Regions from separate parts of the Homo sapiens genome. Here region 1 is linked to region 2. Evidence: fine-mapped expression QTL. A gene starts in region 2. The other region holds a variant in brackets. All regions are shown on one strand. Distances are from middle to middle.

Evidence for each region.
Region 1: its variant is fine-mapped to the expression of MLC1 in blood mononuclear cells (TOPMed, PIP above 0.99). The same link has a PIP of 0.9 or more in monocytes.

The regions. Positions count from the first base shown.
Region 1 is chr22:50,117,796-50,120,706 of GRCh38, forward strand. It overlaps MOV10L1 (Mov10 like RNA helicase 1), which reads left to right. Exons shown (of 27, transcript NM_018995.3): 10 at 2,707-2,821. Among named protein-coding and RNA genes, the nearest start is that of MOV10L1, 29 kb to the left of the region's middle. The variant A/G (reference allele first, on the strand shown) is at 1,183.
Region 2 is chr22:50,083,789-50,086,699 of GRCh38, forward strand. MLC1 (modulator of VRAC current 1) reads right to left here and starts at 1,638. Exons shown (of 12, transcript NM_015166.4): 1 at 1,567-1,638; 2 at 938-1,173. The coding sequence starts at 1,114. RefSeq lists an enhancer at 1,286-1,910.

The sequences.
Region 1 (2,911 bases), 34 kb after region 2:
ATGGAGTTAGGAGAAGCAGTGTGTGATCTGGGACTTGTGGCTGGGGAACATAGGGACCACCCAGATTTTAACTGGAGGGTAGTCTCAGGAAAGCACTTCACATCCACGTGTTCTCTTCTGTAGTTATAAAACGAAAAAGCCCTGAATAGCAGGCTTTTTAAAGTGTAATGACTTAGTCCCGTGTGATGTGACTTTTCCTCCATCGGCTATAATAACTGATGGGTTTGAGCTCTGCTACTACCCCAGACCTCCCTGAGGGTGAGGTGGGTCACTTTTCTAATACTGAAAGATTCTGAATTTCAAATCACGTGTTGCCCCAGTTACAGTTCAAGATGAGGGATTATGGACTTCTACTTAGTTGCAGACTAAAGGGAAAACCTGTTACCAGGGAAGAATATCATGTGGTTGTTTACCTTTTAAGGTTAGACCATTGTTTGAATCACAGCACCACCACCAAGAAGCTGTGTGACCTTGGGCAAGTTTCTTAACCACTCTGAGCCTTGTTCTCATTGGTAAAATGATAGTCCCTGCCTCGTGTGGTTTGAAGATTGAATGAGGTCAGACATGTAAAATGTGCAGTTTTCTGGCACAAAGCAATCACTCAGTAAGCGAATAAGCAGTCATGATCCCTGGGCATATTATTATTGAGAAAAAGGGGCTCACTGCCTGATGCACTAGGGGCCATTGCTACGACAGTGGGTTTCTGAGAAAAGAAAAGCTTTGTATTGAAAACCAACCCCCAAGGAGACAGGAGTCAAGCTCAAATGTGTCTCTCTGTGCTGGCTTTAAGGCAGTAATTTTGTCAGAAAACGTTTAGTGGGTAGAATCTGGGATTAATAGGTGGTTGGTGGAAGGAAAAGGGAGGTCTGGAAAGGCCTTGGGTGTGCATAGTTACCCCTTCATGCTACCTCATGGGTCACATGTGCCAGTTCGGAGGGAGTTCGCATGAAACACGGTGGGAATCCAGGCTGTGACGTCAGTAAGCTCTGCACAAACTCCAGTTGTCCATCTTGGTTCCAGCTGATCTCAGCCAGTCCTTTGATGTCATAAGCAGGGGGAGACTCAGCGCTGGAGTTGTTTCTTATCACCCATCCTGCAGGCTCAAGAATTTCTGTTAGTCATCGGTTTCTTTAACTCTTTGGGGCACAGTTTCAACATCAAGGGGCTGTAGGGATGTAACCC[A/G]GAAAAGGAGCAGGAAAGTCCCTCGGCTGCCAGGCAGAGCAGAGTCCCCGAGGATCGAGTTTTAATGACAGGAGCCTTGGAGGATCCCTGGTTCTCATCTAGTGACACACCAAGCAGCTTTCTAGTTATCATTTGGCTTAACAGAAAGAGTGAAATACACAGAGCAACAGCCACAAGGATTTTAACCCCCTGGTCAGTTACTTCCCCGTGAATATTAACATATTGTGTGGGAGCGTATCTAAAACAAGGACATCAGTTTCCTGCCACTCAGGTTAGTGACCCAGAGTGCCTGACCCGGGTTGGCTCGAGCACACCTGGAGCACCAGGTGTCTGGACCTGCCCACGCGGGCATTGGCGGGTGCCTGCTTCCAGAGCTGTCCATCCGTGGCCGCCTGTCACAGGTCCTGCACTTCCTGCTAGGACCCCCAGTGCCAGGCAACTTTGGCTCTTAGCTAGAGCAGAGTGTTCACTTAGCAGATCTGTTCTGGGGGGCTTTGTAGGCCAGCACACTCCCAGCCAAGTTTCTAGCCACCCATCATGGTAGGAACCACATTTTGTTAATCCAGCGTGTCTGTTGAGGCCACATGGTTCTGTTAGCTGTTCAGGCTGTTGACCTAAGCCTGTAGTGATCATCCTGGTTTCCCTTTACCTTGTTCGTGTTAGTAATCAATGCTTTCCAAATACACCTCGCATGTGAGCGCTGACATAACCCTCAGCACAAACCATGGGGAATGTCTTCACCCCGTTTCTCCTGTTGAGGGCTGAGCCAGTGGAACCCAAATTGAGATGACAGTGAATGGAATACGGAGAGCAATGTGGGCTTCTCTCTTGGGTGAGACTGCACTGAAATGGAGAGCTGGGAGGGAATGAGGGATAAAGGTCCAACCAACATCCTTATTTGCTGAGTTGAGTTTTATCGACCTCACTCTGACTTTTCGTTTCCCTGTTCTCTCCTGGCTTCTCCTCTCCTGTCTGTCCCTTTCCCATTGTTTCTGTTGCCGCATTGGGCTTGGCTCCAGAGCAGCGATGTTCTTCATCCTGAACAAACTGAATTTCCCCAGAGAAACCACAGGCTGGGAAACAAAACAAAAACAAATCGAAGGCAGGACCCAGACAGAGCAGCCTTTTCCTAATGTGTGCTTTGCAGGGATAGGCCCAGGTGGAGTCCTGATGTCAAATATAGTAGGAAGAGCTTAGCTCATAGAATGTTAAAAACAGCTGTTTCCAAACTCCTGGTTCCAGGAGATTCTGGGGGTTCCAGCCCTGTTTTCCCACAGCCTGTGCAGCTACACTTACCTGTTTACAAATAGTAGAGCACTTGTGGGAACTGTTTGAGGAAAGGATCCCAGAGCTAAAACGAAAGCTTCAAACCACTGCCTTAGACCAGCTATTCATATATCAGTTCTTCTCAGGAAATGGATGGACTTTGGTCTTCCTAAAATAGGAAAGGATGTTTAGGTAAGAATGTCTAGTGATACCTGGTGATAAAGACTTATTTTTAACTTGTGAACTTAATTTTTTAAGGAACTCAAGACGACAACTTCCAAGTTTTCTTCCCCAATATCCAATCCCAGATAGACTTAGAAAATGTGTGGAACAAAAAATTGACATCCTGACTTTCCAGCCATTACTTGCAGAGGTAGGAAGTGTCTCATGGCCTGTGGGGTGTTGGCATCTTCTAATGCTCTTGTTTTCTGACAAAGCCAGGAGGTTCCTTCTCAGGTTCAGA
Region 2 (2,911 bases):
ACTGGGACCCAGGGTCCTGGCAGAGGAAGCGAGGTCTGGGGCAGAGGGGATCTGGCCTGGGCGGGGGAGGGGCTGCGACCAAGTCCAGGGCACCAGGTGGAGGAGGGCAGAGCCCGGAGATGGCCACCACCACCCGGGAGCCGCCTCTGTCCCCAGCTCCGAGGCAGACGCCTGTCTTGGTGGGGCATGCTCAGGCCACGGGAGGTGGGCAGGACCACTGTGGGTGCTGCAGGGGCTGCCGGCGGAGGCCAGGGCACAGGGAGGGGAGAAATCACAGCCTGGATCTCATTCTCAGCCCAAGCTACACGGAACCGGGGGTCCCTGCATAGAGGCCTGTCCTGCAGCATGGCTCTGAGCAGCTGCACACACTCAGGCCCAAGTGGCTCCTCCAATCATCTCTGTGCCCACGACTGTGCAGGGAATGGCCAGGACCCCAGGGAAATCCCTCGGACATCTGGCGCTGCCCGTCCACCCCAGACCTGTTCCTTTGTTCCCCAGCTCCCTCCCAGCCGGCCCCTGAGGCCCTCCCTAGGAGGAGGAGGTCCCTGAGGTTCTCTCTGTGAGGGCCGACCTGAAGGCCTGAGACGCCTCCTCCCACCTTTGCAGGTGACCCCTCAGAGGACCCTGGGCCCCCAGAGCCGAGGGTCATGGAGACTCCTGGGGCCCATTCATGGCCCTGGGACTGTCCCTACCCTGGTGGGACTAAGCCACAACCTGGAGCAGCTCAAGGCTGGCACAACAGACACCCATAAATTAATAAAAATAATTGTGAAAACACAAGCAAAACAAGCTCGTCGGCATCCAAGAGTTCTGCAGCAGCAGGGTTAGTCTGAGAGTTGCTCTCTCTGTCCCACCTGGGGCTCCAGGGCGCTGCAGTCCGTCACCAGAGGGACCAGATGCTCGTGGCCCTCCAAGGGCTTAGTGTGGAGCTACTCACCCCCATCAGCACAGAGAAGACCCACGTCTTGTGGCTGAAGCAGGGGGGCAGTCTCTTCGACAGCTGCAGGTCGCTCGGCTTCGCGTCTGGGGCATAGCTGGCGGGGTCTTGCCGGCCCCGCTCCAGCGTGGGCATCCGGTCATAGGCCAGCTCCTCTCTGAATGGCTCCTGGGTCATGGCACTTGGGGACACCACAGCTGTGCTGAATGTACAGCCACGTGTCACCAGTTCTTTATCTGGAATAAAATTATCATCGGCTTTGGCCACTCTGAGGAAACTTCAATAAGTTGTTTCCAAGAAATATTTTTTAACAAAAGAAATATTGTTCATACTGAAGTGCTCTAAATTTGAAGAAGAAAATGAGCACTTGAATCTAAAAGTGAAAAAGAAATAACTTTCCTAGAAAAACGGACCTGAATAGTCTGGGTTCAGGGTGAGATTCTACACTTTAAATGCCTCATTGATCCATCTGGGCCCTCCAGGTGCAACACCTGACAACATCCATCGGCAACTTCGTCCATGAACACATCACGCCGGGGACTCAAGCACGTTAAACTGCTCCAATTGGTAGCTAAACGAGAGATTGCAAAACATGCCTCTACTCAACGGCTTAATGTCTGAGCACTTACCTCCCCCGCTGCTCTGCCGTTGGGAGCACTGGTCTCTGGGTGAGGGACTTCCAGCAAGAAGTATTCACAAATGAAACAAAAGCTCAGCAAACTTGAGCTGAAGGCAGGGGAAGGAGAGCTGCTTCCTGAATATCAATGAGGGGAGGAATCGGGTGGATCGTAGAAATGTTTCGTGTTGGTTGTGTAAACCACTGCCTCGGAGCTGTCAGAACCCAACTAGGAAAGGAAGGGGCCCTGCCTGTGCCACTCGCCACAGAGCTCGGGTCTCTCAGAAGAAAGAAGCGTCCCTAAGAATAGAATCCCACCAAGTACACATTCTGAGCAGGCTCTGTTTCTGAAACGTAACTGTTTACTCGAAGGTCTTCTACATCTTTCCAAGTAGCCTTTTTCCATCCCCCACAGCCACACGGTGGGAACCTCCTTCACACGGTCACATAAGCATTCACGCACTCGGCTTAGCTGTGTGGCCTTGGGCGGCTCCGGATTCGGCCCTGTGGTTTGCGTGGGCAGCCCGGATGGCTGGTGGGCCCGGTCCTGCTGCCCCCTTTATCTCTGCTCACCAAGCAGAGAAAAACCACAGTAATGTGTGTCGCCCAGAGACACTGGCACCCTGACAACTACAGCAACGGGTTCTTTGTGCACATTGTAAAAAGGCTCAAACTAAAGTTTCTGAAAAACCAGCTCCTTAAACCATGAACCCACATTAAAACTTGAGCAAAGTCATCAGGTTCCAGACCATGGGATGTTCTGTTGTCTTCGTTTCAATCAAGCAAGAAGCTTTTAGTAAGCTTTTATTAGCTTTTAGTAAGTTTTTATTAGCTTTTAGTAAGATTACACATACAAGCATCCCTGTCCCAGTGAAAATGCCCACTAAATCACCTCGATCAAAATGCGTAAGTGTCAAGTACGCATAAATGCAGCTCAAAACACTTTGCTCAACCTCACCCCCACAGGAAACAGCAGTGATAAATTTTTAGCAATAAACGAAAGTTTAAGCTATACTAGTATTTTAGGGTTAGTTAATTTTGTGCCAGCCACCACAGCCAATGTTCTGTTGTCTTCATTTCAATCAAGCAAGGATGAGAAATAATTTTCAAAAACTATAATCTGTGAAGTCAAGAACTCATTTTAATGGATTGAGAAACCTCCCAAACTTCACTATCTTTTAAAGCGATAAACGGGATTAGTGGGAGTGGGTCCAACTGGATCGAATCCTCCTGTGTTTCTTTTTGTTTGGAAAAAAATGTTAATCGGATTTCAACATTTTTTTCTTTCAAAAGTTGCTCTCCACTTAGAAATACAAACAAGCTGCCCTGAACCAGAGGTTGCAGAGCAAATCCCTCAG